Linked DNA regions of Homo sapiens. The protein of the gene in region 3 interacts with the protein of the main gene of each other region in a pairwise test. Each region holds a gene or a part of one and is shown on either strand. Other genes may lie near its edges.

Region 1 (3,500 bases), on a different chromosome or scaffold from region 3:
TCCTACCAATTTCAGTGTCCTAATGTATAGAACAGCCAGTGACACAAATTATAGTAGTAAACATTTTTTGAGCATTCTTGTCATGCAAATCAATAAAAAATCTGAGCCACCCAGAAAGTCCATGAGGCCCTAAGTCATTCAACTTAGCGTTTACTGTGCATTGGCTCACTTCATCTTCTCAGTAACCCTAGGTGCTGTCATTGTCCCCATTTTATGAATGTGGAGACTGAGCGATTTATCTAAAGTCACAGACTTGCAAGGGGCAGAGTGAGGTACTGAACCCAGGGCTACTTGTCCCTGTAATTTCCTTCCATAGTGACCGTTACCTCCCGGGATAATGTATGTGCAGCAGCTAACCCTCAGTGAGTGTAGGAAACAGAGGTGCTGGTGGTGATTATCACCTCCCTAGTGTCTGCTTGCAAGTACCCTGAGGTTGAAGTATGGGACTCTGTACACTACAAGAGCAGGGCCTATGCCTGGCTGTTTCCCAGCACCCCAAGTCACTGTTCCTAAGGAGGTACATGGTCAGTGTTGGTTGGGTACCAAAAGGAAGCAAAATGATAACTTTCAGACAGCTGAGATATGCACCCTCTTGTCGACCCCCATGCTTCCGATATTTTAGGTCCTGTGTGTGGAAGTTTTTTTTTTTTTTTTTAGACGGAGTCTTACTCTGTTGCCCAGGCTGGAGTGCAATGGCGTGATCTCGGCTCACTGCAACCTCTGCCTCCTGGGTTCAAGCGATTCTCCTGCCTCAGCCTCCTGAGTAGCTGGGCTTACAGGCATGTGCCACCACACCTGGCTAATTTTTTGTATTTTTAGTAGAGATGGGATTTCACCATGTTGGTCAGGCTGGTTTCGAACTCCTGACCTTGTGATCCACCCTCCTTAGCCTCCCAAAGTGCTGGGATTACAGCTGTGAGCCACCGCACCTGGCCCTTTGTGTGGAATATTAAGCACCCAGTGTTTTCTGTACTACCGCCCTTTTTCCTTCATAGAAATGATTTTTAACCATTAATTTTTAAAATGTTAGTAAACCTTAAACTTTTTATGTTGCACATACTCATATACTGCTGATAGGCAGATAAATGTATATACTGTTTCTAAAGGGAAGCTTATCAATATCTATGTAGAGCCTTCAAAGCACACATTTTGACCAATAATTTTTTTTTTTTTTTTTGGTCAAAGATGTAGGCCGGGCATGGTGGCGTACACCTGTACTCCCAGCACTTTGGGAGGCCGCAGTGGACAGATCACTTGAGGTCAGGAGTTCGAGACCACCCTGGCCAACGTGGTGAAACCTCGTCTCTACTAAAAATACAAAAATTATGTGGGTGTGATGGTGGATTCCTGTAATCCCAGCTACTCTAGAGGCTGAGGCAAGAGAAACGCTTGAACCCAGGAGGCGGAGGTTGCAGTGAGCAGAGATCACGCCACTGCAGTCCAGCCTAGGCAACAGACTAAGACTCTGTCTCAACCACGACAACAACAAAAAGACAGTCTGGTCGCAGTGACTCACGCCTGTAATCCCAGCACTTGAGAAGCTGAGGCAGGCGGATCACCTGAGATCAGGAGTTCAAGACCAGCCTGACCAATGTGGTGAAACCTCATCTCTACTAAAAATCCAAAAAGATTAGCTGGGCGTGGTGGTGTGTGCTTGTAATCCCAGCTACTTGGGAGGCTGAGGCAGCAGAATTGCTTGAACCCAGGAGGTGGAGGTTGCAGTGAGCCGAGATCACACCACTGCACTCCAGCCTGGGTAACAAGAGTGAAAACTCCATCTCAAAAAAACAAAACAAAACAAAACAAAAAGATTTAGTCAAAGTTTCACATTCCTGGTGGCTCACACCTGTAGTTCCAGTACTTTGGGAGTCCAAGGCAGGCAGATTGCTTGAACCCAGGAGTTCCAGACCAATCTGGGCATCATGGCAAAACTCTGTCTCTATAAAAGAAAAATTAAAAAGTAGCCAGGCTTGGTAGTGCATGCCTGTAGTCCTAGCTACTTGGGGGGCTGAGGTAGGAGGATCACCTGAGCCCAGGGAGGTAGAGGCTGCAGTGAACCATGATCACACCATTGCACTCCAGCCTGGGTGACAGATTGAGACTTGTCTTTAAGCAAAACAAAAGATTCATATTCCAAAATGTTTCTCAGTGCCTTCTTTATAATGGCAAAACACACATACACAAAATACAAAAATACCACGTCCTATGATGGATAAATAATTCAGTAAGGGGTTGTATAGCTTAAATTATATGTGGTATAATATTATTCACCTATTAGAAATGAAGCTGAAAAGAAATTTAGTGACATTAGAAATATATAAACCAAAAAAAGCTGTATACAAATTTATTGGTTATATTGCAGTTTATTTTTAAAATTTATATATCTGGTTGGGCATGGTGGCTCACGCCTGTAATCCCAGCACTTTGGGAGGCCCAGGCAGATGGATTGGTTGAGCTCTGGAGTTTGAGACCAGCTTGGGCAACATGACGAAACCCCATATCTACAAAAAATACAAAAATTAGCCAGGCGTGGGAGTGTGTGCCTGTAATCCCAGCTACTCGGGAGGCTGAGGTGGTAGGATGGCTTGAACCTGAAGTGGAGAGTGTGTTCAGTCGAGATCGCACCACTGCACTCCAGCCTGGGTGACAGAGCGCGACTCTGTCTCAAAAAAAAAAAAAAAAAAAAAAAAATTATATATTCGTACATGTAAATAAGACTTACCAAAACCAAAAAGGTAACCATATTTTTTTTCCTGTACAGCAGGATTACAGGTGATTTTTATTTCATTTTATGTCTGTGTCTGTTTCCAGCTTCTATGAAGGTATATATCAAATTTATGAAAACCAGACAAAAATGCCTTTAAAATTTTCAGGACAAGTAGGAGAAGATGAAAAATTTGAATACAACATGGAGGTAAATGAGGCAAAAATGAATATTGAGAGGGCCGGTCATGGTGGCTCATGTGTGTAATCCCAGCACTTTGGGAGGTGGAGGTGGGCAGATCACTTAAGCCCAGGAGTTCAAGACCAGCTTGGGCAACACGGCAAAACCCTGTCTCTACCAAAAATACAAAAATTAGCCAGTCTCATAACCTGGTCTCTAAATAAATAAATAGATAAAAATACAAAAAACACATGTTGAGGGCACTTCTTGGCCCCTGTGAGTCACCTGGAGAAGTGTGCTTAGGAGCCATCCAGGTAGCAGCTTTGGGGACTTCTGGGACCACTCAGATGCTCCCACCCCTTCTCTGAAAACCACCCTGTGTAGGCTCAGGGCAGTGCCTGGCACAGGGGCCTGGAGAGCTCCAGGGAACAGAGGCTCTGTCCCCTATGGTGCCCTCAGGAGTTTGGGGAAGAGCAACATACCTAGGAAGCCAGATGCACACTCTTCTTATTTTCTTATTTTGGAAACTTGAAAAACCATTAACAGTAACCGATTTAGGTATTTTTTTTGGTTTGTTTTTGTTTTTAGGAGCAGAGGTTTAACAGGCAAAAGAAAA
Region 2 (3,500 bases), on a different chromosome or scaffold from region 3:
CACCACTAAAAATGGCAAAATAACGTTGAGCTCAGGGATCTGACACTGAGAGGGAATTTCCTGATTTTTTGAAGGAAATTTCCTGGTTTACAGAGTGGACTTGACCAAGTGTGAACGATCATGGGCGTATGTGTTATGTGGGAAGTGTGTTCTGACACATAGATACTCTGTAATTGAAATTTATTTTAGGACATACATATGGAAGAGCTTGATTTACAGTCACACTTCGGGAGGGGTGGGGGGGGTAATGAAAACAAGCGGGGGGGCATGTGTAGTTTTGATGGAGATGCAGCCTTTTCCTCACACCCACACAAACTTATTTCCCAAATCTTAATGCCAACCATGAGGCATGAAGGGAAAATTGGGTGTAACAGAGGATGCGAACCACCTTAAGGATCAACTCGCCGACTGTCTTGTGGCTTTCAAAAGTGGTGAAATGAGAAGAAAATAATTTTTTCATTCTGTGTATTTACATGTGTCTATAGTTTGCAGGAAAAGAGCAGACTTATTACCAGGGAAGACACTTAGGAGACACTTTTGGCGAAGACTGGCAGCAAACACCTTTAAGGCAAGGTGAGAGGCAAGGTGAGATGGGTGAGAAACACAAAAGACACTTTTCAAAAGTAACATGCTCACCACTGGGTCGCCTATTTTCTGTGGACTGACAGAGTGACCCCTGGATATATGTGCTGTGTGTGTTGCTATAGAATCCTGACTAGACTATAGAAATAGAAGCAACGGTGTGGTCAGGCGCGGTGGCACACGCCTGTAATCCCAGCACTTTGGGAAGCTGAGGCGGGACAATCACCTGAGGTCAGAAGTTCGAGACCAGCCTAACATGGTGAAACCCCAACTCTACTAAATAAAAAAATTTGCCGGGTGTGGTGGCGGGTGCCTGTAATCCCAGCTACTCAGGAGGCTGAGGCAGGAGAATCACTTGATCCCAGGAGGTGGAGGTTGCAGTGAGCCAAGATGATGCCATTGCGCTCCAGCCTGGGCAACAACAGCAAAACCCCATCTCAAAAAAAAAAAAAAAAAAGCAACAGTGTTGCAGACATCTCCTGGCACCAATCAGATAGTGCCTCCCTGCAGCTCCAGGACCATTCACACCCCGTCTGCAGTCACTGCCTCATGCCCTTGAGACTGTACACCTCCATGCTGGGAGAGCTTCCATGCCCAGGGGTGCTGAGAAGTTGACATCTCAGGCATACTTCACCCCAGTTTCCTATGGGAACTGGTGAGGCAACTCTAAGGTGGAGGTTGAGCCCCCGTGACTCCTACAACAAATTGTTGCCTTTCCTTCCTTGTCTCGTTCTCCTTCCCTTTACTCAGGGTCAGCTTCAGGGGGGATGTGAAGCCCCCTACTCTAAGCTGGGGATTGAGGCAGAGGTGGCACCAGGGATATACGTCTCTCACAGGCCCTGGATACTCTCAGAGAACACTTCTGCATCTTACAATCATAATATGCACCTACATCACACATTAAAACTAATGTCGATATAACTGTCTATAAGTCAGATATCTGCAAATAATTCAAATATATTTAGATACAGCCATCATAATTTAGATACAACTATCTAAGAAGTAACTGCTAATTGCTCACATAAGTCTTTATTCTCTAGACAGTTATATATACACATACAAATATGTATGAATGTATTCATATCTCAATCTAATCCTTTAAGAATGTCTTTTAATTTTAACCTTTTTCCCTTCTCAAAAACATTTATAACTCTTTCACTAGCTCTGGGATCCTGGCTACTAAGTCTATAAGATCTGAAGGGGATGGATGCAACTGATGCTTCTATGTATCTAAATTTAAACATTATTGGTTTAATGTTGAGGCTTATTCCTTCATTATAGCTATTTATGCCAGGAAGCAAATGACAATACATTTTTAAAATGTCCTCTGTGTAAGAGAATTTCGTCTCGCCTGCCCCAGATGCAGGAAGACCCACAGTGCTGGCCCAGTCAATAAAACATAAGGCCTGGCAGAAGCCACCACATGTTCTGCCTCAGAATAGGCTGGAAATAGCAAATCAGAGTCATAACTTTGCCAGAGGGACATTTTCATTATGGGCTATTTATCCTTGTTCTACACACATTTAAAATGCATTTCCATAACATGTGTGTGCATAGACATATAATAACTGCTAAAGAATAAAGGAGACACATTATTTCCCTTAGATATTTACTTTATTGTAAAATATATCAGGTTTATTTTAAAATAGGCCTTGTTTTTGATATATTCAAGTTATTCCAGCCAGATCGAGAACAGATGATGTCGCAGAATGAACTCCTGGCCTGGAACTTGAGACTCAGAGCTCTCAATAAATTTCCAGCTCTTCTTTGAAAACAATAAATAGGCAGGGCATGGTGGCTCACGCCTGTAATTCCAGCACTTTGGGAAGCCGAGGCGGGTGGATCATCTGAGGTCAGGAGTTCGATGCCAGCCTGGCCAACATGGTGAAACCTCGTCTCTACTAAAAATACAAAAAATTAGCTGTGCATGGTGGTGGGCACCTGTAATCCTAGCTACTCGGGAGGCTGAGGCAGGAGAATTGCTTGAACCTGGGAGGTGGAGGTTGCAGTGAGCCGAGATCATGCCACTTGCATTCCAGCCTGGGTGACAGAATGAGACCCTGCCTCAAAAAAAAAAAAAAAAATAAATAAATATCTTTTCTCACATAACAAATTAGAATGTCACTTATTAATTTGCTGGCAGATACTGTCCCTAATGGAAGTGAACTCCAGGTATCACGATGGCACGTGTCCTCCTGCCCCGGCTCAGCACCTGTTGTCATCTATGGTGGGAAAGGGCAGTCAGGAAGATTATGCATTTGGGCTCTTGATCTTCTCCTTTTAAAATTTTTTAATGAAATTCTTTTCTAAAGGCTGATTCGTTTGCAATGTACACAAAGGTGTAAACTGCAAATAGCTGTCACTAAGCAAGGATGCGTAATCTGACTAGACTCTTCAATGTAGAAAGCATGTTGAGAAATAGGAGAGTAGAAACACAGTCCATGATGTTGCAGGTGGTGCTCCCCAGCGAGGGAATGTTAGCACGACACTTCATTCTCACACCTACAGCCTGGGAGACAGTGGTGTGCTGGCAAATGTCCAGCCACAGGCTCTTGGGAACGCTTTTTAAAAAGCCCTGAACCAACTCCTGCCAGCTGGATTGAGCTGGCTTCAACACACCACCGCCCATAGGGTATGAAAGACACCCTCTTTCCAGAAATGTGAATACCACAGGGTGTTCTTGCGAACATGTTTACGTAAGAAGATTGGAGACAGGGCGCACACACAAAAAGACTCCGAGAAGGATCTGAACAGGCGTTCTCCGGCAACTAGGTCTGGGTGTCACTTTCACCCAGGGTCTGGGTGACAGAACAGCCCGGGCCCAGCCTCAGCACACCCACTGGCTAGCTGTGAAGTCCTGTCAAGGCACTAGGTCTTTCACACTAGGTCTCGGTGACAGAACAGCCTTGGCCTAGCCT
Region 3 (5,579 bases):
AACTCCACCTCTACTAAAAATACAAAAAATTTGCCGGGTGTGGTGGTGGGCGCCTGTAGTCCCAGCTACTCAGGGGGCTGAGACAGGAGAATGGCGTGAACCTGGGAGGTGGAGCTTGCAGGGAGCTGAGATCGCGCCACTGCACTCCAGCCTGGGTGACAGACCGAGACTCCGTCTCAAAAAAAATAAAAAAAAAAAGTTCAGCTATCCTTGAAGAAAATATTGCAAGTCATATATCTGATAAGGAATTAATATCTAGAATACATAAGGAACTCACAAAACTCAACAACTAAAAACCAGCCAAATTCAAAAATGGGCAAACAACTTGAATAGACATGTCTCCAAAGAAGATATATAAATGGCTAAGAACATGAAAAGATGTTCAACATCATTAATTATTAGGAAAATGTGTATCAAAACCACAAGGAGATACCACTTCATACCCATTATGATGGCTGTTATCAAAAAACAGGAAACAGTAAGTGTTGGCGTAGATGTGGAGAAATTAGAGCCCTTGCGCATTGCCAGCGAGAATATAAAACAGTTCAGTCGCTGTAGAAAACAGTACAGCAGTTCCTCAAAAATGTCAACATAGACCTATCATTTGATCCAGCAATCCTACGCAAAAGTACATACACAAAAGTATATACACAAAAAAAGTATACACACAAAAGTACTGAAAGCGGAGATTCCCACAGATATTTGTATACAGAGATATTTGTTCACAGCAACTTTATCCACCATAGCCAAAAGATGGCTATTATGAATAGCCGATGGATGAATCAATCAACAAAATGTGGTATATTCATACAATGGAATATTAGTCATCTTTAAAAAGGAATTAAATTCTGATACATGCCATAACATGGATGAATCTTGAGGACACTATGTTAAGTAAAATAGTTGTATTAGTTTGTTTTCATGCTGCTCATAAAGACATATCCGAAACCGGAAACAAAAAGAGGATTAATTGGACTTACAGTACCACATAGCTGAGAGGCCTCTGAATCATGGCAGGAGGCAAAAGGCACTTCTTACATGGCAGTGGCAAGAGAAAATGAGGAGGAAGCAAAAGCGGAAACCCCTGATGAACCCACCAGATCTCGTGAGACTTATTCACTATCATGAGAATAGCACGGGAAAGACCGGCCTCATGATTCAACCAGTTCCTCTTTGGTCCCTCCCACAACATGTGCGAATTCTGGGAGATACAATTCAAGTTGATATTTGCCCAGGGACACAGCTGAACCATATCAATAATCTAGACACAAAAGGTCAAATATTGTATGATTCCACTTACATGAGGTACCTAGAATAGTCAAATATAATACAGACAGAAAGCAGAACAGTGGTTACCAGGAAATGAGGGAAGGAGAAATGGGGAGTAATTGTTTAAATGGGTACAGAGATTTGGTGTGGGATGATGCTTAATGCCACTCAACTGTACAGTTAATATGGTTATAATGATTAATTTTATGTATATTTTATTGAAATAAAAAAGGATACAAGGGAATGAGCTACTGATATACATAACAACATGGATGAATCTCAAAATAACTATGCTAAGTTAAAGAATCCAGACAAAAAAACCGTGCACATATATAATTCCATCTGGTTAAAATTCTAGAAAATGCCAACTCATCTAGTGACAGAAAACAAATCCAGGCTGACACAGTGGCTCACACCTGTAATTCCAGCTCTTTGGGAGGCTGAGCAAGGAGGATCTCTTCAGGCCAGGATTTCAAGATCAGCCTGGGAAACATATTGAGACCCAGTCTCTACAAACAAATAAAAAACAATAAAAAAAGAAAACAGATATGTCAGGAAGAGGAATTGCAAAGGGGCACAAGGAAACTTCTGGAATAATGGGTATGTTCATTATCTTGATAGTGGGGATAGTTTCACAGGTGTGTTGAAACTTATAAAACTATAAATGTTCAATATGTATAGCTTATTGTATGTCAGTTATTCCCGAATAAAGCCATTCACAGAGGGGAGAAAATGTAGCCATTCTTACAGGCTTAGCCTTCTCTTGACAAATGGGAGATGCCACTGCTGGTTATCCTTTCTCACTGGTGCTGAAACACTGCCACTCTCTTTGTTGGTAAAAAGTTACAGGACTGTATTTACACATTTCTCCCCTGCTCTGCCTCTTCTGATCTGGACCATCATATCCCTAGTCTGGATTACTTTGGTCACCTCTGTGAGCTCTCCTGTTTCTGGTGTTGCTTCCCTTCTTCTACTCCTCAGTGGCTCCCCATCTCACTCCAAATCCAAACCTACTACTTTGTATTCTAACATGACAAAGCCCTACCTTCTGCCACCCATTTACTTGTCCCTTTGTCTTCATTTCATTTCCTCTTCTCTCACTCTATTCCATCCACACTTGTTGCTTCTGAAACATCCCAATCATGTTCTATCTTCCCGCCTATGTGCTCCCGCTTCAAATTTCTCAGTGGCTCATTCTCTCCGTCCAATCTGCTTAAATGTTACCCCTTTAACAAGGCCTTGCCTGGCTCTCCTACCTAAAATTGTAAGATTATCCCTCACCCTTGTTACACAATCTACTTTTATTTTCTGTTTTCCCTTGCTAGAATGTGAGCTTGATGAGGGCAGGGATTTTTGTCTGTTTTGTTCACTGATACATGCTCAGCATCTAGACAACTGACTAGCAAATAGTAGATGCTTATTGTTAAATGAAAAAATAATTGCATAGGCATGAAAAAAATGTAACTTTGTAGATCAAATAAGTTTTTTCCCCCCCTTTGGTCTTCTTGTGAGCCTTCTTGGCTCTTCATGGGAGACCTTATTGTTAGATGAATAAATAACTGGATGGTCACCCCCAAAAATGTGACTTATAAGACCAAACAAGTTTTACTGAGCAGTATAAGTGATTTCAAAAATCACTGACAAGGCATAGCATGATACAATAAAAAAAAGCTAGGTCAAATAAGCTTTGAGATTTTAGACAGGGATGCTGGGACGCTAAGATAACATTAAACATCACAGCGTTTTTATGAATACTCCAAAACTCCAAGCTGTAATTATAAACTAGCTTTTCATGGTCTCAGTGATGAGCTGAGAAATATAGAGCAAGTCATGTTAAAATAGAGATTCAAGAATTACGGGAACAAATTTCCATCCTTAAGGGGATGCAATTTTTCCCAAATCAAAGACATGAATGGAAATCCTAGAATTCCAAGAACATTATTGCAAAGTCTCTACTTTCCAGCCTATCACATGCTCAACAGGAAACATGGATCGGTTTCTTCCTTTTGTGAGCCTTCCTGGGTTTTGGATTTTTGTTTGTTTCTTTGTTTGTTTTGAGACGGAATCTCACTCTGTCGCCCGGGCTGGAGTACAGTGGCGCAATCTCAGCTCACTGCAACCTCTGCCTCCCAGGTTCAAGCAATTCTACTGCCTCAGCCTCCCGAGTAGCTGGGACTACAGGTGCGCACCACCATGCCCAGCTTATTTTTCTATTTCTAAGAGACAAGGTTTCACCATGTTGGCCAGGCTGGTCTTGAACTCCTGACCTTGTGATCCACCTGCCTTGGTCTCCCAAAGTGCTGGGATTACAGTTGTGAGCCTCCGCGCCCAGCTGCCTTCCTGGCTCCTTGTGGGAGGTCTGGAAAATAATGTCAAGAATATGCAATACTTGGCACTAGTTTAAAATCTTAAGAATTGCTTTTCTTTCTAGAAAGACAATTTCACAGAAAATGTTTCCTTCCAGACAAAGAAACAAAAATGGTAGCCAATAGTTACTGTTGATCTAAGTGATGTTTCTGAAGGTGTTCCAGTCAAAGAACAAGGTGCTGGACCATATTAAACATTGGGTTTTTAATGCCTTCCCCGCTAAAGTTCGTTTTTTATAGCTAGGAGTAACAAGCAATTGCCAGCAAAGCTGGAATAGGAAAATCAAATATTCTGCCTATTTACATATGGTTCCCCGAAGCCATTCCTGATTAAAAATTGTACCATTTCAATCTTCCTACTGGAGATATCTATTAACTAGAACGGCATGTGAAAGCCAATGAATTTAGTATATAATTACACGTATCCTATACAAATTACTTCTCAATGACCTCTACTCATGAAAATAAACCAAAGAGGGATGACTGGCTCATTATAAATCTACAAGAAGATTTCCCTGGGAAAAGGTATTGAGAGCAGAGTCTTGAAAGATCTTAAGCTTCAACTGAATTTAATTTCAGCAGGAAGCAATCACTTCTGTATCTGAATTCCCAGTGCATTTTACGTGAACCTCTCCAGTGGCAAGGAACACTTTCCAACTTAAATCCCTGCTCTTATCACTAAGTAGCAATGTGACCTTGGCCAAGCCACTTCCCTTCTCGGTGTTTTCATTTGTAAAATGAAAGGCTAGAATCAAGTGATTTCAAAAGTCTCTTTCAAACCCAATGTTTCATCATTTCATAATTATAATCACGAGAGCCCACCTATTACCTCCCTATTACCTCAAAGTGAGAAAGCCATTGATTTATCTTTGGAGTTCCCATACTGTCTAGAACAGCTCATTGACAAACAAGTTCAAGGACACAGAAAAAAATACAATTCTCTGAAGTGTCCACTCTCTATGACCTCCTTAAGCCCTTCTCAACCTCAACCAAAATTTTAAACCAAATGATTCTCTTCAAGTCCACCTTTGCCATAGTTCTGGCATTCTGCCAAGGATTATAAGACCAGAAAACTAAACAGATATCACTTGTCACTTAGAAGACATGCGCCCACCATAGAGTTTCAAGGCACATGCTTTGTACACCATCTGACCCAGAGCCACATGCTTTGTATGCCGTCTGACACACAGCCAGACACCTACAGAAAGGTTCTGTTTCATCGAATAAGATAATCTGATGCATTCCAATCATCTGAGAGTATGTGCTGGAAAGCTACAGCAGATGTGGGTGAGAAGTAAAGCTGGAGAAAGGAAGACACCAGGACCTGAAAGAAAAAGCAAGTGGAATGTCCCCTTAACCTTTCCAGAAGGTGGACATTTTAAAAATCCAAGTCCCTGGCCAGGCGCAGTGGCTCACACCTGTAATCTCAGCACTTTGGGAGACCAAGGCATGCAGATCACGAGGTCAGGAGTTTGAGACCAGCCTGGCTAGCATGGTGAAACCCCGTCTCTACTAAAATTATAAAAAATTAGCTGGGAGTAGTGGTGCATGCCTGTAATCCCAGCTACTCGGGAAGCTGAGGCAGGAGAATCACTTGAACCCAGGAGGCGGAGGTTGCAGTGAGCCGAGATCGTGCCACTGCACTCCGGCCTGGGAGATAGAGCAACACTCTGTCTCAAAAAATTAAAAAAGTAAAATAATAAAATAAAATCCCTGAGACGGCTACACTGCTGGGATAAGAAATACCTGCTCATAATGCACATAGCCTTAGGTGTTAAGATTCTGAAGCCTGGATATTTGTCCTCAAATCCTAACTCTGCTAATTACTTGCTGCATCACCATGAACAAGTTAATCAACCTTCTGTGACTCAGTTTCCTCATCTGTAAAATGAGGATAGCAATAGTACTTCATTACTATTTTGTTCTTTGAATTGTTGGGAAGAC

What was found. Proteins that work in one complex are often made in the same cells at the same time.
Region 1: the proteins of FTO (region 3) and USP20 interact in binary tests that used the Homo sapiens proteins (3 or more experiments, as listed by UniProt).
Region 2: the proteins of FTO (region 3) and SHC3 interact in binary tests that used the Homo sapiens proteins (3 or more experiments, as listed by UniProt).

What each region holds. Positions count from the first base shown.
Region 1 is NC_000009.12:129,841,958-129,845,457, forward strand, and holds part of USP20 (ubiquitin carboxyl-terminal hydrolase 20), read left to right. Parts: intron 1-3,500.
Region 2 is NC_000009.12:89,042,819-89,046,318, reverse strand, and holds part of SHC3 (SHC-transforming protein 3), read left to right. Parts: intron 1-485; coding exon 486-573; intron 574-3,500. UniProt on the Homo sapiens protein: Signaling adapter that couples activated growth factor receptors to signaling pathway in neurons. Involved in the signal transduction pathways of neurotrophin-activated Trk receptors in cortical neurons.
Region 3 is NC_000016.10:53,828,642-53,834,220, reverse strand, and holds part of FTO (alpha-ketoglutarate-dependent dioxygenase FTO), read right to left. Parts: intron 1-5,579.